4 separate regions of the Homo sapiens genome follow, and regions 2, 3 and 4 are each linked to region 1. Evidence: fine-mapped expression QTL. A gene starts in region 1. Each other region holds a variant in brackets. All regions are shown on one strand. Distances are between the middles of the regions.

Region 1 (5,147 bases):
ACAGGTAACTCTCCCCTGTGGTCTCTCCATCTAAACAATCAGCTGCCTGCTGGGACCTGAGCAATGCAAAGAACAAGAAAGCTATCAAGTACTGGCTTTAATTTGTAGAAAACATTACAGCTCACAAACTTATTTTACCCATTAATAAAGCTCTTGAAAACCAATTGTATGTGGATTAAATAGCTATTTTAGAAATAAACAAAATTGGGCCAGGCGTGGTGGCTCACGCCTGTAATCCCAGCACTTTGGGAGGCCAAGGCAGGCGGATCATCTGATGTCAGGAGTTCGAGACCAGCCTGGCCAACATGGTGAAACCCCGTGTCTACTAAAAATACAAAATTAGCCTGGCATGGTGGCACACGCCGGTGATCCCAGCTACTCGGAAGGCTGAGGCAGGGAGAATCGCTTGAACCCAGGAGGCAGAGGTTGCAGTGAGCCGAGACCCTGCCACTGCACTCCAGCCTAGGCAACAAGAGCAAAACGCAAAAAAAAAAAAAAAAAAAAAAAAAAAAGGAAAGGGAAGAGAAGAGAAGGGTGGCGAGGGAAGGGGAAGGGAGGGGAGGGGCTTCATCCAGTCTTTTCTGGAAGCACAAAATTCCAGGTAAATGGAATAGAGTCCATGTCAGCATTCACATACCAACAGAGAGAGCAGGCCATGTTCTACTGGCCACATTAAAATAGCAAAGAGAAAGAGATTAATTTTATTGATATATTTTATTTGGTCCAGTATGTCCAAAATATAATTTCAACATGTAAGCAAAATAATACAATTGTTGATAATGTATTTTACATTTTGGTACAAAGTCTTTGAAAGATGGTGTATGTTTGAAATTAAAGCACATCTCAGACTGGCGACATTGCACAAGCTTCACGTCTAAATGTCCGGCAGCCTAGCGTTGTTCAGAACGGCAGGGCGGGAGGAATGTGGAAGATGAATGTCCTGGGACTGAAAGTGAAGCTGCTGAGGGCCAGAGTTTTAACAATTTTGGAAACTTGGGTGCCAGGGCGCACAATATATGAAAGATCTGGGAGGGCGGCTGAGGGGAAGATGAAGAGAAAAAATCCCAGTGACCGTAGATAGGCTGTGGTTAATATTAATAGCAAAAAGAGTTTGACCCCAAATTACAGAAGTTACAAGAAAACAGACACCACAAAAGAAAGGCAGGCACCAGACAGGACTGACGATGAAACTAACCCATGGAAATTAATAAGAGTGATGTTTCACATAGTAACGAAATATCATCAGGGAGATACACAGTAACAGGCTGAACTGAAGAGGACAGATCTATTCCCTGTAACTGAAAGGTCCTGTTGAAAATAGCTGAACAAACACAGGGGAGTGAGAATGGACACAGATGAAAACCATCACACCAGCTGGGTGCGGTGGCTCATGCCTGTAATCCCAGCACTTTGGGAGGCCCAGGCGGGTAAATCACTTGAGGTCAGGAGTTCAAAACTAGCCTGGCCAACATGGTGAAACCCCGTCTCTACTAAAAATACAAAAAAAATTAGCCAGGTGAGGTGGCGAACACCTGTAATCCCAGCTACTCGGGAGGCTGAGGCAGGAGAATAGCTTGAACCCAGGAGGCGGAGGTTGCAGTGAGCCGAGGTCCCACCATTGTGCTCCAGCCTGGGCGACAGAGCGAGACATCGTCTTAAAAAAAAAAAAAAAAAACCAGGAAAGCCAAGCCCGAGATTTCCCAAACTCAGCAACAACAGTCGTGATGTTTTGAGAGGAAGGTTGAGAAACACAAAAGAGAGGAAGATGCACTATCTACCTAACGGGATGTTCCTGGAGTTGAATACAGGAAGAATAGAGAAAAATATCAATGAAAGAAATGTTTTCCCATAAGAAGAAACCATGACCTTCTACACTGAAATGAGAGAATGCATGTTAAGTAGCATAAGCAGAAATGACCACACTGTGGAAAGATTTTAAGAAAGATCTGGGAGGGGTTAAAGCTATTAAAAAAAAAAAAAAGTCCACCACTAGAACTATTTTTAGAAACATTAAACTAGTTCAAGAGCTAACATATGCAATTAAAGTATATACACTTAATAATTCATGATGTTAAAATAACAGAATGTTTAATTTGAAAATGTCAAAGTTGGGGTATAGATGTTAAAATAAAGGGAAAAAATTCGCTGGAAGAAAATTAACTTTATATTTTTGTATCTGTCGTTGAACAACGAAGTGAAGCGTAAGAACATCTGGTAAATCTCCAAAGTGAAGACAGATAACCCTAAGCTGACCCAGACTAAGAGTGCACTGCCCTTAGGGTCGCGAGAGCAGACACCTTCCCAAGTCCTGCAGGGTCCGAGGAGTGGGCAATGTCCCCGGCTCCTGCAGGGTCTCGGGGCGGACACCGTCCTCATTGATGCTCTGACCCTTCTAGGGAGTCCCAGGTGGGACAGGGCTGGCGTGGCGGTACAGCGCCCTGAGCCTTTGAAACAAACCTCCTAAATTCCACCCGCCTCCGCCTGCTCCTCTGTTAACGAACTAAAGACGCCCTCGGCCTCCTGGCGGAGCGAGCACAAGTCCCACAGCAGCGTAGTAAGTTTTCCGTATTACAGCGACCACCAGGAAATATCGCGATATCTGGACCTAGCAATGCCATGAAATTACCGCGAGAGGAAGCAAGCGCAAGTTTCGTGAGAAGGGCAGATCTCACGAGAGAGGATTTGGCGCCCTCCTCTGTGGATTCTGGCCAGGCCGGGTTCGGCGGTTGCTGTGAGAGCGGGCTTCCCAACACCATGCCGTCCGCCTTCTCTGTCAGCTCTTTCCCCGTCAGCATCCCAGCCGTGCTCACGGTAACTCGCGGCCCGCGTAACCACCAGTTCGGGGGAGGACGGCGGAGAGGCGTAGGGTAGGCCCCACAGAGCACCCGGCCTGTGGCCAAGAAGGCCCCGGCCGTGGGCGGGGCCTTGTGGCGGAGCGCGCGCGCTGGGCAGGGTCCTGAGACCTGTGGGAGTGGCTCGGGGCCGGCGTCGGGGGCGCGCGCTGTGGGCGGGGTCCTGGGCCCTGTGGGAGGGGGCCGGGGCCGGGCGTCGGGGCGCGAGCGCTAGGCGGGGTCCTGGGCCGTTGGGCGGGGAGGGGCGGGGCCGGGCGGGGCCTTGTGGAGGAGCGTGCGCAGTGAGCTGGCTCCGGCGCTCTGTGGCCCGGGCTTGGGCTGGGCTGGCGTCCTGCACCGTGCGGGCGTGGCTGAGTTGTGTGGGCGGAGCGCGAGGGGTAGGGCTTTGTTCGTGTGGGAGGTGCACGCCGGCCAGTCCAGCGTCTTGCGGGCGGGGCTTGGGCCATGTGGGCGGATTCTGGCAGTGCGGCGGGGCGTGCGTGGTGGAGCCTGATCGTGTGGGGTGGCACGGAGGAACGCTGCCCAGTGTGGGCGGGGCGTGCGCCGTGCCGGGTTCGTCTGACAGATCCCAGGGGAGCCCACGCCCCACGTGGCCGCCAAGGGGTGACATGGGCACTCGATGGGGTCTGGGCAGAAAGCCGTGCTCCCCTCACCTCCGTGCCTCTGGTCTTCTGGTGGGTGCATTGATGGGAGTAGATGCGCTTGTGTCCTTATGTCATGGCGCGGCTCTGGAGAAGCCGCTGCGGTCCCCAGCAGAGAGTAGTGACACAGGAGTTCTGGAGGGCTGTGCCGGGCTGCAGCTTGGAGGGCAGGGCGGGGCTGCAGCTTGGAGGGCAGGGCGGGGCTGCAGCTTGGAGGGCAGGGCTTGTCTTCTGCAGGAGGGCGCTCAAGGAGGGGATGGGGAGGGTTGAGGACTGCTGGGATTGGCATCTGAGCATCAGGTGGGGACTGAGCAGCAGTGGATCTGAGCCTGGCTACTTCAGGTCCCTGAGCCAGACACTGTCCCCAGGTACAGCAGGGTCCCGGGGAGTCCAGGAGGCGGCGGAGTGCGGCACTGTCTGGAGAGTTCAGTGTATTGCAGAGAGGTTGGAGAAAATCAAGTCTTGCACGTGGCGATGGCTCAAGATTCCCTGAGGTCTTCAGTGCTGACTAAGGAGTCTGAAATGATGATTCATGTTTTACCTTTGGGGCTGAGCCAAGTGCATCTCTTTGAGCAATCGTCTTAATTTCCTTGTCGTCACCAATTATCATAACCAATTATCATCGTAAAGGATGGTAATTCCTTTAATTATACCCACCTTAAAAACATGATTCTGTTCCACAAACGAAAGGAGCACATCAGAGATGCCTTCAGTTCTGTGTGCTTGAACTTTGAATTCCATGAATTATAGTTGCACTGAGGGGAGAATCCTGTTTCCATCCTCCTGGTTCCTTCTCCCTTTCCTGTCCCCATGTTTCTCTGAGGCCTGGCAATGCTCTCTGGATACTTGGTGAGTAGCCCAGGAGGACTCAGGAGTGAGAGGCCCCTGCCTCCTGCGCTGGGAGAAGGCTGTGGGTGGGCCGTGAACCCGGCCTTGAGTGGCAGGACAGTGAGTGTCTGCTGGTGTGTTCCTACAGCAGACGGACTGGACTGAGCCCTGGCTCATGGGGCTGGCCACCTTCCACGCGCTCTGCGTGCTCCTCACCTGCTTGTCCTCCCGAAGCTACAGACTACAGATCGGGCACTTTCTGTGTCTAGGTGAGTAAAACAACACAAACTCCACAACTCAGATCACTGTGTGAAATGAAACTGTGTATGTTCTGTCTGTGTCTTCGAAATATATACATATTTTTACAAGACCTCCCAACCCTCTGTCATGTGCCTGCTCCCAGGGCACTCCCGTTTTTCACTCTTGGAAGCTATAAAGAAAACTACTTTTTGGATGTTAGAGTTGAGAGGAATCTGTTGAGTTCCTGTTGCCTACCAGGGAGGTGCTGAGCACCAGCTGCACACAGGAGAGTTGGGTTTCCGGAAGTGCTGTCTTTTACACAAGATGCGTCCTTGGTGGCAGCTGTGCTCATGCACTGCTTTGAATGGGAGGAAGATTGCAAACTGGGAAAGAAAAGTTCTGTGCATAAAATAAGGCATTGCCCAACTTGGTTTCAAGGATAAGGGCTACAGAACTTAGAGAAGTTAGGGAGTTGCACAGGATGACTGAGAAAGATTATTCAGAAAAGCTGAAATCATGGCACAGGGTGTGAAGAGTGAGTAAAATGTTAATAAGAAAAGAGAGGGAGCAGGTGACGGCCCTGGGA
Region 2 (5,147 bases), 24 kb after region 1:
TTAAGGCCCTCAGGTGCCTCTCACTTCCCAGCACTAAGGACACATGCATTGGGTTTTCTTATGGCTGCACCCCAGTCTTGGTACAAAATCTCTTTTACTTACTAGTACCTTGTGATGAACAACCTCAAGCCTCAGCTAATGAAAACAGCAGCAGTCACAGTGTTGCTCACAGATCTGTAACTTGGGCAGAGATCCCAGGAGACAGCTTGCCTTTGCTTCATACACTTCAGCTTGGGGCAGCAGGAAGTTTCACTTTCCACATGGACTTGCCCTTGTGACTAGCTGGTTGGTGTTGATCAGCAGCAAGGGCTGTGGGTTGGGGCCATGGCAGGGCAGGCCATACAGGCCTCCTCATGGCCTCTTGGGCTGCCTCACAACAAGGTGGCTGGTTCCAAGAACAAAAGTCTCAAGACAACAAGGTGCATCACTTTTTCATCCCATGTCATCCCACTCACAGGGGAAGTCACAAAGACTGCCTGGGACCCAGGACAGGGACACGGCACCCCATATCCTGGTAGGTGTGTCAAAGTCAGAGTCCCACTGTGAAGGAGCAAGTGTGATGAGGGCTTGTCTTGTGCCGTCTTTGGAAAATGCAATCAGCCACTGCTGATTTTTTCTGTGTGATTAATTATGTGGTTTTCTCTTGGGGGAGGAGTGTCCAGGTATATTTTAATGGTTTGACAATGTTCTACTTGCCATAGACAACACAGTGTTCATTTTTTCTTAGGCTTTATAACTTTGATGTGTAATACATATGTTCCTCTGTGAGACTCAAATACTTCACTTAGAAAATCTCATCATCTGACAACCTCCTTTGCCTGTGCAGAGCTGTGGTGAATTTTCCATCGCTCTTAGGTCCTCAGAATAAAACCCAATGCCTGCACCACGTGTATGACAACCTTTGTGACGTGGCCTCCACGGAGAGCCTCATTTTTAGGATGGTAACTTACTCAGAGTGCTGCACCCGCACTGATCCTGTAGAACAAGTGTCTTTCCTCGTAGTGGCCCCAGCAGGCTTCCGCCTCTGCTCAGAGCGTGCCTCTGGCTGAGGCTTATGTTGATCTGCTTCTGCACGGCCATCACCTCCTCAGAGGGGACTTCCTGGGCCCCCATCTAAAGTGTCACCCACTCATCTCCACCCAGAAGCCCCACTTTATATTATATTACAGAAGTTTTATCTAAACTCATTCTGCTCCCTGATGAACTCGCTTGCACTTCCTTAAATGCACACTGGAAGGTGTGCATCCCGAGGGCAGAGCCTGTCCTCCCTGTGCCCCAGTGCTGGGAGCCATGTTTACATCAGAAACCTCCTGGGAAGTGGTTTTGAGTGAACCATTTCATCACAACAACCCTGTAAGGTAAATGATATTATTTCCATATTTTAGATGAAAAAAGAGATTTCCAGAAAAATGAAAAATTCTGCAGTCCACAGTGATGTTGGTATGGGATCTGGAGCTGTCGTGGCCCAAAGCCAGAGTCCTTTTCTCCTTCCTGACTCAGTGCTGTCAATCTCTGATGTCAGAAGAGCGAGCACCGAAGACAGAAAACAGCGTCCTACACTCAGCGGCAAGGAGAGTTTGAGGAACACACAAGGAGATCTGGAAGCCCGTGGTGTTGCCTCCTCACCAGGAGGCCATGGTGGTCTTGGGAGGTGCCCATGCTCTACTCTGTGTGCCAGCTGAGCAGGAAGTGGACAGAGAAGCAAGGTTGGGTCACATTCTCTGTGTAGAGTGTTTCTCCTTCTCATCATATGTTTATATACTTGGAGGGGATGGGTGGAGATTTCTTGCACGCATGGATTGTGTGGTGGTGAAGGTGGGGCAGCTGTCACCCGAATAGTGAGCATCATATCCCACAGGCAATTCCCCAGCCCTCAGCTACTCCCCACCTCCCACCTTCTCCAGTGTCTGTGCATCCGCTCTGCACATCCACATGTGTTCCCACCTTCTCCGGTGTCTGTGTGTCCGCTCTGCACGTACACATGTGTAAAGAACTTGACACTGCGACCCGGTCAGGAGACAGCGGCAGGTGTGTGAGGCACGAAGCCAGGAGGAGCCGGGGCTGCAGCACAGCAGGGAAATAATAAATTTGTGCTGGAAAAGGGTGCTTGGGAGGAGAATCTAAGAACCTCATGGAGAAACATGGTTTGGGTACGAGAAGGAATTTGTCCCACATTAAGAAGTAGATAGAGGCATATGTTTTGCGAACCCTGGGAAATGGATGGGAACCCCCAGGCCCCAGGTGCCCCATGCTTCCCACAGTGGACGCCATGAGGACAGCCTCAGCTCACTGTCAGGACCTCCACCTCCAGTGGGTCAGCTCCCTGGCACCCAAATATGCGAGGCTACTACACGCCAGGCACTGTGGCTGGTGTTTCAAGAAGCTGTCAAGGTCATACAGATACAAAGTCCACAAGCTGGAAGCAGAGACTGGGGCCGGTGATAGAAGTTGACCACCCCTTCTGTGGCTCCCCACCCCTAGCTGAGAGTCCAGGTGGAAGTGAACCAAGCTCCTAGACAATGTGGAACGTACCGTTTAGGCGTTGAAGGAAAGCATGAACACTTGTATTATCTCAGCCACGGGGAAGACTTGACAGAGCCACTGATTTACAGCAATCTTACTGTGGCCTGTACCCAGTCTGTGAGAAAACTATGCAATCATACAAGATTGTATTTAAGGTTCAATATGTTTTTAATTTTTCAAAAGACATCACTTGGGGGTAGGCCCAGATTGGAGAAGCAGGAGGTTTAGGAGCCGATGAAATGGAAGGTGTGGATGTGGGAGGACACTGCGGAAAGACAGCTGAGCCTGCAGGTCTCATTCTACGCACCTCAGGTCGGTTCTGTGGCCGTGCTGGGTTCCTTGGTCAAGGTGGACAGCTGAGCAGCTGTTT[C/T]TCTCTGCTTCTTCCAAGTCCCCATTAAAATTATGATAATAAAATGGAAAGATGGAGACCAGCAGTCAAGTGAGTAGGGCAGGGGTCATGAACTTGAGCCCAACACAGGAAGCTTGAAGAGCATGGAAGCCACAGAGAGAGTCTCCCTCCCTGCAAAGGAACAGCGACTAGGTGAAAGGCAAATTCTCACCAGCAACAGAGACAGGAAGCCTCCAGCTGCTCAGAAACCATGTCCATCAATTCAACTCTTGAGAATAAAGGTTGAATAAGGACATTCTCAGAAGAAAAGAAGAAATCTTATGAAAATAAAAACACTATCCTAGAGTAAGATAAACAAAACAAACAAAAGTTGTAAGAATTTGAAAGAAAGAAGAAAAAAATGTGTTCTTAATCGTAGATGATATTTTCTACAGAGAAATCCCAAAATAAGATATAGATAGATGATAAATACTAACAAGAGAGTTGGGGGAGATCACTCGATATAAAGATCAATGTACATCAATTTGTTTTTATAACAAAATAGACAGCTAGAAATGCATTTTATAAAAGATGTCTTTTACAATATCAACCAAAATTGTAAGTTTCCAAGAAACTAATCTAAAATATGTACAAGATTTTTATGAATAAAATTACAAAATTGTTTTAAAAGATGTAAAGATGGCTTAATGGAAACATATGCCATATTGACAGGTAAGAAAAGCTGATGTCACACATAAGGGGTTTCCAGATTGGTCTGCAGAGTCAAGCCCAGCCCAGTGTGACCTGAAAGTGACCCTGAGTGCAAAGGCCCTGGATCTGCCAAGAGACTCCTGAGGACAGGAGCAGCCCATGCTCTGACGGATACCACGGCCGCTCACGGATTCTTGGCAATTCCTGCACTGCGGTCTGGGTGAAGTGAAGGGAAGCACTCATAGGTGGCCCCACAGGCCCAGGTATGGCCCAGCGGGTGTGGGCTGTGGTGGGAAGGACGGGCTGCAGCCGGGGGACCAGGCCTTCACCGGGCACCGCAACAGCCCACGGTTCCTGGAATGAATGTACCTCGGACCTCACAGCTCAGCAGCCATTAATTCCCACACGCCCAGGTGTGGCCCAGCTGGGTACAGGCCACAGTGGGAAGGATGGGCTGCAGCTGGGGGACCAGGCCTTCACCGGGCACCACAACAGCCCATGGTTCCCGGGCTGAGTGTGCCTCTGACCTCACAGCTCAGCAGCTGTTAATTCCCATGGCTCAAGGACTTGTGGATGCTGAAACCCTAAACCTTCTACAGGAGAAATGAGAGAACAGATTTCTGACTTTGGTGCAAGGACAAATGTTCTAAACAAGATCTAAAAATCCATTAACAATACAGAGAAAATGGACAAAGTTGACTACATTAAAAATACGAATTTATCTTTTCAAAGTTCTATTGTTCCACACCACTGTAGGAAGATTATAGTAAACAAGAATAGACAGTTTCAAGTAGCTGGAAGGATACTGAGTGTTCCCTACACAAAGACGTGGTCAGTGTTTGCATGGCTATGCTAATTACCCTGACCTGAGTGGCACAGGCATGCATCAAAGCATCACTGTCTACGCCGTAAAGATGCACAAGAATCATGGGCCAGTTACAACAAAATCTACATCTTCAAGTCATTTGAAAACATAGAAACTGGTAGAAGGTTGGCAGCACACAGATTAATAATTAGCAAAGACATTTATGTCCAGAGTATATGGAGAATTTCTAAGAATCCACAAATAACTGAAAAACCAGGCAAGAGGGAACTGGGCAGAACCATGCAGAGCCCATGCATGAGGAAGATAGAATAAGACGCTCTGGATGAAAATGGACTCATACGCTCTAATTAGCAGCCCCTTGTTTGTTATTTAGTTCAACTCCTTATTTTCTGTAAATCCCAAAGGCTGGGTCCTTTGCCGGCAGCAGGTATGAATGGAAAGGGAAAAAAATGATGGTGGCTCCGAGACGCACTAGAGCCTTCTCCATGGGCCAAGCAGGACCGTCTCCTTCACGTCAGACCATGCCTCCAAGGTGATGGAGCCATTTTACGATGACATCTGCTGCAGCCACAAGGAATAAGAAAACTCAGGTATTGATCTTTCTACCTCATTCGCCTCTAAATGCAGGGACGTGTGGGGGTCCCGTTGCAGCCTCTGAAGAGCAATCTCCTGTGCAGTTCCTCACTCAAAAACAAAACCGAGCCGAGCCGCAAGTTCACTCTGCCAGGCCCTCTTAGACACAGATCCATGCGGAGTGGC
Region 3 (5,147 bases), 720 kb before region 1:
AAAGATGCAATAATGGTGGCTCCAATGAGGATGCCGGAAATGAAGGACTCACACATTCACCACTGGTGGAAATGCAGATGGGAACCTTTCTGGAGAAACAAACTGGCGCTCAGTTTCCAAATTCAAGATGTACAAAATATGGGGTGATATGGTTCGGATGTGTCCCCCCTCAATCTCATCTTGAATTGTAGCTCCCATAATTCCCAGGTGCTGTGGGAGGGACCCAGCGGGAGATAATTAAATCCTGGGGGCAGTTTTCCCCCTACTGTTCTCCTGGTTGGTGCTGAGTAAGTCTCATGAGATCTGATGGTTTTATAAGAAGTTTCCCCCTTTGCTTGGCTCTTATTTTCTCTTGCCTGCCACCATGTAAGACATGCCTTTCACCTTCTGCCATGATTGTGAGGCCTCCCCAGCCATATGAAATTGTGAGCCCATTAACCCTCTTTTCCTTTATATAAATTGACCAGTCTCGGGTATGTCTTTATCAGTAGCACGAAAATGGACTAATTCACTGAGGAAACAGGAAATCCCCCACCCCCCTTGGCTCCGTGTTGGCTCCCAGACTGGCTGGCTCCCTGCTTGCTCTGTGCTCCCGTCTCTTCCTAAGCAGGTCCTTCGGGGTCTGGAGATTCCACGGGGCCAGGCATTACCAGCAGTCTTGCTTCCTGTGCCTTCCCTGTGGGATTTAGGGGGTACTCTTCCTCTTTCACTATCTGCCCCCAGAGTCAGGGAGTCCTCCCGTGGATGCCGACCGCAGCTCACTGGGCAGGGTGGCCTTTACAGGTGGTCCCTGGATGAGCCCTGGGCCACTTGCATCTGAGGCATTGGTTAGGTGGAGAGGCTTGGGGCCCACTTGGCTGCATACGGAATCCACAGGATGGAGATGTGGCCAGAGGTAACCGTCAGCCCTTTCATCCTGAAGTCTGTGCAACATTCTCTGATCCAGATGAGGAGCAGCCAGGAAGCAGCATTTGGGTGCCCTCCACCTGCCCACTCACACAGCCTGCGTGGGTCTGGCTGGCTTTTGTCTCATGGCTTGCTCGGTAGGATCTCTGAGTAAATGGCTGGCTCGCGGCACTCAGTGCCCTTTGACTCCTAACCTATACCCTTGGACCCACAGTTCCAAATCTGGAATTTATCCTAACAGTCAGACAAATACCCACAGGGGTGTGTACTTTCAGGATGTGCTGCAGAGTGGCTTTGCAGGCTAGAGTTTCCTGGGAGGTCATCACTGAGATATTGGTTCAAGGCACCTGCTCAGCCCACACTCTGGCAGAAGACACTGAGGCAGGATTTGAGGTACAGAATGCTTATTAGGGATCAAACCCATGCCAGGAGGAGGAGGTAGCAGGATGGGCAGAGGGAGAAGCTCAGGGCTGTGCAGGCTCTGCTTGTCTGGTCCTGAGGGGAGCTATGGGGCTGTAGCTGGCCTGGCTGGGTCATGGGTGTAGCTGCCTGGTGGGTAGTGTCAGCATTCTCGCTGGGAGGACACTAGGCTGGGAAGGCTCCAGGGCTGGGGTTCTTGAGTGAGCAAACCAAAGCCCATTGTAAACAGAAAAAGAGAACTAGCGACTTTACTAATCAGAAACCACCAACTCCCCTGTGGCTGGGGCTCCTGCTCTAACTGATTGGGTGCATTGTCTCTGTCTTCCTTCCCCATCCATCTGAGAGGTCACTGCCCTCGCTCTTCTCTGAACCTCCTCTGTTTCCGAGTGCTGCCCAATTCACGAGTCTTCTAATGGTCAAGTAAACTCACTTCAATGTGTTTTGCCTAAAGTTTTACTTTTATCAGGGTGACTTTCTTTCAGCAGGGTGATTGTGATGTGCACGCTGCCTACAGCTCAGGCCAACCTGCAGGCACAGATATGGGAGGCTCTGCTAATGGGAGCCTCAGTCTCCTGGAGGGGACTGGAGGTGAAGCTCTCTGAGCTTACAGCAAGGTGAGGAGTATCCAGACCTACAAGGACAGACATCAGGTTGGAAAGTCAGCACAGGAGACTATGACGCACAACAGTTACTTCAGGCCACGAGGAAGGCTTGGAAAAGGAATGTCCTTTTTACTTGTATTGCTGGATTTTTTGCCACAAGGATACATGATTAGAAAGGAATCCAGCTTTTGAGATTTTTGTAAAAAGAAAAAGGCATTTTAAAAAGATCCCCTTTGGCTTACCCATTAATGTCTGACTTGACAAGACATGAAGACTCCACATGAAGTTAATTTTCAATTCTTGCTGATAAAAATCTTGGATAAACTAACAGCTACAATAAAAGCCTGCATCAGTTCCACTGAAACGTGAAGGAAATTTACGTTTTCATTTGTGCTGCTTGGGCAATTTTGCACATCATAAGTGAAATTTGTTTTTTTTTTTTTTGAGACGCATGTAATGTAAAGTCACAAATATTTCTTTTTTTTTTTTTTTTTTTTGAGACAGAGTCTCACTTCTTTATCCAGGCTGGAGTGCAGTGGTGCAATCTCAGCTCTTTACCCAGGCTGGAGTGCAATGGTGCGATCTCAGCTCTTTACCCAGACTGAAGTACAATGGTGTGATCTCAGCTCACTGCAATCTTTGCCTCCCAAATTCAAGCAATTCTCCTGCCTCAGCCTCCCGAGCAGCTGGGATTACAGGCACATGCCAGAACGCCCAGCTAATTTTTATATTTTTAGTAGAGACAGGGTTTCACCATGTTGGCCAGGCTGGTCTCAAACTCCTGACCTCAAGTGATCCACCTGCTTCGGCCTCCCAAAGTGCTGGGATTACAGCCGTGAGCCACCGCAGCTGGCCTATTTTTGGTTTTCAATTAATAGCTGGTTGCAACTTCAAGTATTTTTTTATAACCTAGGAGCCTCTCCCCTATCTTTGATAATAACATTTCAAACATAATTTTTTCTAAATGCAAGAAGCTACTGCAGAAAATAGACAGGGACAGTGCCACATGAGGGCTGAAAATAAAGGTCAAGAATGTCCACACTGGGAAGGGGAAGAGAGCCCAGGGGCGTCTGGCTGGAGAAGAGGGAAGGGTGGCGGCCATGGGTGGCAGC[T/A]CCCATTAAGTGGGGCTACCAGTAAAATGCAGGACACTCACCTAAACATGAATGTCAAATAACAAGTAAGATTTCCATGTAAGGATTTTCCTGTGCACCCGTTGATGTGCCTTGTTCCTATTTGCAGAACCTGGTGCTCCTAGAGAGGTGTGAGTGAGTGAAGACAGGTGTCCTTCAGAGAAATTCATGCAAGGAAGGCAGATTGAGGCCACATGGGGAGGAGGCAGGAGCCCCAGGCCCTGGGATGGGAGAGGCTCCCGAGGCACTGGAGATCTGCAGAGATGGAAAGGGTGGGCAACAGGGCCTCTGATCTTCAGATTTGCTTTCTGCAGTTTCAGTTCCCTGTGGTTAACCTCAGTCTGAAAATATTACATGAAAAATTCCAGAAATAAACAACTCATCGGTTTTAAATCATGCATCATTCTGGGTATTGTTATAATTGTTCTGTTTTATTATCAGTTATGGTGGATCTCTTACTATGCCTAATTTATAAACTAAGCTTCACCGTGGGTATGTGTGTAGGAAAACACAGCATACATAGGACTTGTTCTCTCCATGGCTTCAGGTGTCCACTGGGGTCTTGGAAAGATTCTCCTTTGGATAAGGGGGCTGCTGTATTGGAAAGGCCAGAGTTGGAAGCCCATCGTCAGGCTGCTGATGCTGCTGGAGAAGCTCCGCGCAGAAAATGCAATCTGGTGATGATGCCCAGGAGGGCTTGGAGAGCACGTGGCTCTGCCTCCCTCGGGGGGGCTGGACATTTCATGAGGACTCACCTGGGGCAGACAAGGGAGGGATGGCTGAACAGAGGAGGGCATGGGTGAACCCAGAGTCCTGTCCTGCAGAAACAACTGCAGCCGCCACCTGGGAAATGCACCTGCAGGGAAGGTGGGGCTGGTCTCCAAGAAACAGAAGAGGGAAGAAATGTCTCTGGTCTGGTTCCTGGAAAGGAGAATGTGAGCGTGGCTTGCAGAGGAGGTGAGGGCCTGGCTGCAGGGAGAGCCCAGCCTCCTGGGCCTGGAGCTTCCTCAGGGGCCTGGCAGTGGCTGCTCAAGGAGTTTGGTGCCAGCGCCCCCCACCCTCTGTCAGTCCTGGGTCATGGCTGCAGGTGAGGGGGCACAACCTTCCAGGCACCTTCTCTGCACTCCCTGGCCCCTGCAATCCTCAGCTGGGCTGCAAGGAGAGCCTTGGCCCCAGCACCCCATTCCTTGGGGGAAGGGCACCCCCACAAAGCCAGAGATAGAGACCCCCACGCAAGCGGTGCAGGAGGAAACCAGGGCTTGCCTGCACATGAACCAGGTGATATTCATGACCTCTCCCACTGCAGTTTTGTCCAGACCCTCCCTGCCCAGCTAGATAAATGCTGAGCTGTGGGGAGGCAGAGAAGGGACAGAGGTCTCCGCCTGTGATGTCTGCAATGCTGGGGCCACAACAGGAGCCGCCCACTGGGTGAGGTCTGAGAACCCATGGAGTGGTCTTTGCTTCTGAGCTGGTGCCGGGTGGTGGCCAGCCTTGTTTGCAGTGGGAAGCCAGGCAGGCGTGGGGTGTGGGTGTCTGGGGAGATGGCCTGATTGAAACCCACAAGTTTCCAGCCGTGCCAGAGCTGGCATAGAAGTGATCCAAAGGCAACAGTAGTTTGTGGGCAGCGCGGCAGTCAGGAGATGGGCCCCAGGCTGCCTGCAGGATACAGGGAGGCCACCACACATCACTGGGTGCCAGCAGGCATCTGTGGTTCCCCTAGGACTGATGGGGAGATGCCAGCAGAGAGTGGGGAAAAGACAGAAGCCCTGGCCACAGTCCTGTCCCTCACCGGAGTCATCCCTGAGTGAGGGAGGAATGAAAACTATGCCTGGTTTTTCTTGGAGTTGACTGGATTTATTTTCCTTCACTGTCTGGAAGTGGAGCTTAACCAAGAGATGAAGTTGCATGCCTGAAAATGTGCGGAACGCTACTTTTCTTGTACCCTTTGTTTGTGGCATGGGAAGTACTTTTTTCTGCACAAGGTGCATATTTGGAACTCTGGAAGTTTTGACCCCAGGTACGCCCCATGGGAGCTGGATAAAGGAGCTTCTGACATGTGTCTGGGTTTGAAAATGCTCTGCTGGGGGCT
Region 4 (5,147 bases), 56 kb after region 1:
GCTTGATCATTACACATTGTAGACATGTATTGAAATATTGCATGTACCCTGCAAATATACAGCTATTATGCATCAATAAAAAATGAAAAAAAAAGGTCCCTTCATGGAAACAGGAAAACAAACATGGAATTTCTCCTTAAACTGATCAGCGAGGCCTCTCCGTTGTTTCAATCTCTAGTTATCAATGGACAATGGAGCTTCAGGGTTCTGCAGGAAGAAGAACTTCCTTGGCTGAAGAAACTTCTAGAAGCCACGTTGTGAACGGGTAGCTCCTTTCTCCTCTGCCTACAGACTCAGTGCTCCAGGGCCCCAGCACCATCCTCCATTTGCTTTAGAGGGTGACACTCACACAGCACCCACGCCGCCCCAGCCCATGGCTGGTGACCTCGGTTGACTGTGGCATCACCTAGACACCATACCTTCTGCTGATGTCAGGAATGAGAATAATCTATCATTTAGGGTCCCAGGAGATGGAGAGTTCAGCTTTTAATGAAGCACAGAGCTGAAGCAGTCATCAGCACAGCCTGCAGTGTTGCTCCTGGCCCCAGCGCCTGCAGCTGGTTGGAAAGCCGGTCTCACGTTGAATGCCCAGCATGCCTCTGGGAACACAAGATCATCTTCCTTTACCTTGTGACAGCAGACATTTTCCCAGGAGCAGGTCACATCATGGTTTAGGGTTGGCATCATGGAAATATGGGTGGGCTTTAAAGGTGCGTGTTGAATCAGTTCTGTGACGTCTCTTGGCCTTACTTCCCTCACGTGCACAGCATGAATAATGATGCCTCTCCCAGGCTGATGCCAAAATTAGTAAATGAAATCATCGGTAAAGACCCTCACGCAGGGTCTTGCACAGAAAGATTGGTCAACAACAGCAGTGACTTTCCTTTCCTTTCTGGCTTTTAAAATTTTTAATATGTGCTTTCTCTGTCCAAGGGGATGTCAATGCTACCAGTGACTGGAAAGCTGGTATTAGGCCTGGACAAAATGTGACCTCTAACTTGAATTCATGACTTAACACAAATCTGAAAATAAGTTATTTTATGGGGCATATTCCTGTCCTGGTATTTCACAATGCTTCTATTGAATAAATGTCATCTGACCTTTACAGATGAGCCCACTCATTTTTTGTTTCTGCATAAATAGCTCAAATACAACCCAAGATTTATTTCATTATGAAATATTGTTAAAGTATCATAATGCATTTTCCTTCCAACATACTTCTAGTTTGTTTTTATCTGGAGCATGGAAAATAAGCAACAGTGAAAGTCAGGACTAGAAAATGACCTTTTATATTGCCATAAATGCAACCCCCAGAACTAATAAAGAAAAAATTCAGGAGGGAACAGCACAAAAAGAAATGCATATTTTATTTCCATGTTAGTCTCAAATATAACAGGCCTCAAAAATCCCTAACGGCTGATGCATACAGCTCTGGGTGAGTGACTCCAAAGTAAGATAATGAGTTGAGCTTGGCTGCCGCTCCATTAGGGAGCTGATGAGATGCAAGCTGCTGCCCCTCTTCCTCCCATGAAGTTTGAAGCATCATCGGAAACCGTCAGGTGAAACTGCCTGGAAGATGAAGCAATTCATCAAAGGCCAGGCTGTGGCCGTGTACCTTACGTAATGCTAATCAAAATAAATTAGAATTGGAAACAGCGTTTCCGGTAACCCTGCAGAATGGTGAAGGTGTTTTGCTCCCAGCTATTTAGCGGCAGTATGAACATCTACGTAACCTTGCTGACTTACTGTGAGAGTCATTCTCCTGAAAAGAGGCAAATCAGCTTTGTGAGATTCACTAGAGTCGAGGCAAATTGAGATTTGTTTGTATGTAATACTGTTCTTCATTTTGACATCATGGAAAGGTCTTTAAAATCTTCCTGAACTTTGATGGCAAATAAGAGGCTTCAACTTTCAGAAATCTATGCCATCTTTCCATGGCACGGGAAGGGCTGCTTCCTGCATTGTGTCTGTTTAAGCTGTGGGAATCTAAATGCGTGTACGCAGAGGGACCTGAGAAGGTGGCCGTGCTCGCCTGGGAACACGCCAGGGTGAGTTCACAACAATTGCCCTAATGTGCAATAAAACACAGGGACGGGCTCCAAGAAGGCCGAGAGGGACGCAGCCACCCGGGAGAACACACTGTTCGGGTCTGCGGTCCCAGCGCCGGATCCCAGCTGGCCTGGGCTCTGCCTGGACACTACCCTAGCAGAGCTCTGGCCACGTGGGGTGGGCTGCCTGTTCTCAGGACGCGCTCTCCCTGCCTGGGCCGCCGCTTAGGGTGCTGTCTCCACTCGCCAGGACGCGGCCGCAGGACCGGGGCGAAGGCACAGCTCCGCTCTGGCTGGTCCCCAGGGCCAACCCCTGTGACGGTCTTTTGTTCTTAGCGCTCAAGACGTTTTTCTACAGTCCTCCTTGAGAGCGCAGAAGACATCCCACTCCCCCAGTACCTCCACGTAACCTGGGAACCGATTTTAGGAGACGCCCCCTGGAAGTCAGGCTTTGCCCCAGGGAGCGGCCCTATCGGGTGGAAAACCAGGGTTTCTTCAGTTCTCAGGGTCTGGATGACCGTGTTGCCTCAAGCAAAAGCGGGGTTTACTTGCTGGAAAGGAGAGTTGGAGACAAGGTGACAGCTGGACTCGGGGCCTCAGATGACATGGCCGGGCCCTCTCTCCTCTCCCCGGCACCGGCGCTGGGTCTGGTCCCTTGATGTGAGCTTTCTCCAGGG[A/T]CACCTCCGCCTTTGAGTCGCCAAACCAGGGCTCCCGGGAGAGAGGGAGGCTCCCGACTGCGCGCGCCCCAGGGCGGAGGAGGCTCAGACTCGCCTGCGCGCCCCCTTGACCTCGGAGCGCCTCTAGGACCTGAGCCCAGAGCGCACGGACATCCGCGGCCCCCAAGTGGCCTCCAAGGACCGGACCGCGGAGAGGGGCGCGCCCAGCCGGAGGCTGGGAAGGAAGTGGAGCAGGCCGACCTGAGGGCGTGGCTCCCTGTGCTCCGGGGATGGAAGCGTTTATGTGGCACCGACTGTATGCACGGTGGGGACTGAATCCCTGGGCAGCCTGCGGGGAGGCGTCGTACCTGCCGCGTGAAGGTGGAAGCGGCCGTGGGAGGCGCAGGACCAGGCCCAGGGCAGGCAGTTGGCTCCGGAGCGCGCGTTCTCACAGCTGAGTTTAGGATCACCATATCATCTCTCACCCAAATCAAGAAACTCTGGGAGCACAATGGACCCTAATTATAATGACAGAGGAGCCGCAGGCCTGGACCGGGCAGCTGCGGCCTCTCTCAGCCCCAGTCCCGCCTTCCCGCGTGGATCCGGGCAGCCTGGCGTGGCCTCCGCAACGCGCAGCGGGGACGCGGTGACCCCAGAGCTCGGCTGCTCGCAGGGTCCACACGTGAAGAACTCGGGGCTCCTCTGAGCTGCAACCCTAGATGTCTAGCGATGACGTCACCCGCCCAGCCACATGCCACTAATTTAGAAAAGACATTCAGCCACAGTTTTGATTTTCTCTGAGTCAGGATGGAAAATGAAATGAACTACTAATTTTTTGTTGTTTTTCTCTTATAAATATGAATGCTGGAATCTGGTGATGATCAAGGATTTTAAGATAAATGAGCAATTCATTTTTAAGCTGAACGGAGCTATTTATTCTAAAATAAGTTTCTGTTTCTTTTTTCCCCCCAGATTCCTTGTAATTTCACAGTTGAATGATTACCTTTTTCCTGAACCATTTATACCCTCGCTGGTCTCGCTATGGCCATTAACCCTGGCTAAAATGTCACCGGTGGGCTACCTCTGCCCCCCTCCTCATGGTCAGGGAGGAGAGACGACTGTGCCGACTCCGAAGCCAACTCCTGGGCACTTCTGGGCGATCGCCCTCCCCGCAGAGCGTCTCCTCCTGCGGGCTGCAGACACCGCCTTTCCCTGCCAGGTTGTGCCTGTCCAAGCAGGAGCTGAAGGGCTGTGGTGAGAGGCTCACACTCCTGCGGCATTCCCACCTTGGAACACCTTTCTGAAATTCTGCAGTACCCTGAGCATGCTGATTTTTCGTGGTTTTGTCCTTGTTTTTCTAGTTTTCAGGGAGAGGGAAGTTTGCTGAAGCCATGGGCACATCCCTGCTGCAGGCCCCTCTTCCTGCATGCCCACAGTCACCCTCCCGGGAGCCTTTGCACCCAGACCCCACCCTGCCCAGAGAGGCCTCTCAGGCACAGGGCCTGGCGAGGGGAGGTCCCCATTGCCTGACTCTGCTGCCAGTCATTAAAGTGTGACCAGAAAAGGTAGGATGTTTAACTGGAGTGCAGGTTCCCAGGGCTAGCAAGTTACTGCAACTTCATAGGTGCATCTAGCCTTGAACTTTGAGGGAGGGTTCCTAAGCAAAACGAAATAGAAGCAAAACTCTGCCCTGCATGAAAAAGGGGACCCTGGGAAATAGAAGGAAACGTAAAACACAAAGCATTTAAATGTAAACCTTTATAATACTTAAAAATACTTTTAATTTGTGCCATTTTAGATACACAATGTATAAGTTCTCTCTTAGTGGATACGTATTGTTTAGTAACGTAGTGCGGTGCTAAATAGTGTTGATTTAAGATCAAAACTAAGATTATATTAATTAATGAAAGCACAAATGACAGGCAGCAGTTTTGAGAGAAGCGCTGGATGAAGCCTGCCTGTCATCCCTGCCTCTCCTCACTCCACTCTGCTGCGTTGCTTTGCTTGGCCAGGTTGGTCGCAGGGGCAGACAGGAGTGGACGCCATCTTTCCCTCCTAGCACATGGTCCTCCTTGCTCTTTTGAGCAAAGCCTCTGACCCTTTTTCTTTCCTCCACCTCACCTGATTTTCCTCTTTTCTGCTTTCCTTTCTTCCTTTCTTTCCCTCTGCCTCCATCAGCCATTCCATAGTGTTTACTATGTGGCTTTCCACAAGTTATATAAAATATGCATTGTCATCTTGTCCACATGTATTTTTATTTTGAATTTTTCATAAATAGTAGCATTTTACAAATTTCATTCAGTTCTTTGCATTGATTCCTCCACACTGTGGTTTTAACATTGCTCACATACAAGTGTTTTAAAATCCCTCACTGTGCACCTGGATCTATCCTGTTCTCCTTTAGACACAGGGCAGGTGAGCCCCAAAGCGGAGCTAAGCCCAC

What was found. PIP is the estimated chance that this variant, and not a neighbour inherited with it, causes the effect.
Region 2: its variant is the best candidate, but not a certain one, in a credible set for the expression of TMEM18 in whole blood (INTERVAL, PIP 0.50).
Region 3: its variant is the best candidate, but not a certain one, in a credible set for the expression of TMEM18 in gastroesophageal junction (GTEx, PIP 0.59).
Region 4: its variant is the best candidate, but not a certain one, in a credible set for the expression of TMEM18 in whole blood (INTERVAL, PIP 0.59).

The regions. Positions count from the first base shown.
Region 1 is chr2:674,953-680,099 of GRCh38, reverse strand. TMEM18 (transmembrane protein 18) reads left to right here and starts at 2,694. Exons shown (of 5, transcript NM_152834.4): 1 at 2,694-2,811; 2 at 4,470-4,590. The coding sequence starts at 2,755. TMEM18-DT (TMEM18 divergent transcript) reads right to left here and starts at 2,728. Exons shown (of 3, transcript NR_183417.1): 1 at 2,627-2,728; 2 at 1-56. RefSeq lists enhancers at 2,552-2,621, 2,652-2,751, 2,654-3,419 and a silencer at 2,912-3,161.
Region 2 is chr2:650,962-656,108 of GRCh38, reverse strand. No RefSeq gene overlaps it. Among named protein-coding and RNA genes, the nearest start is that of TMEM18-DT, 24 kb to the left of the region's middle. The variant C/T (reference allele first, on the strand shown) is at 2,894.
Region 3 is chr2:1,397,847-1,402,993 of GRCh38, reverse strand. It overlaps a transcript of TPO not described here. Among named protein-coding and RNA genes, the nearest start is that of TPO, 13 kb to the left of the region's middle. The variant T/A (reference allele first, on the strand shown) is at 3,041.
Region 4 is chr2:618,939-624,085 of GRCh38, reverse strand. No RefSeq gene overlaps it. Among named protein-coding and RNA genes, the nearest start is that of TMEM18-DT, 56 kb to the left of the region's middle. RefSeq lists an enhancer at 3,207-3,796. The variant A/T (reference allele first, on the strand shown) is at 2,726.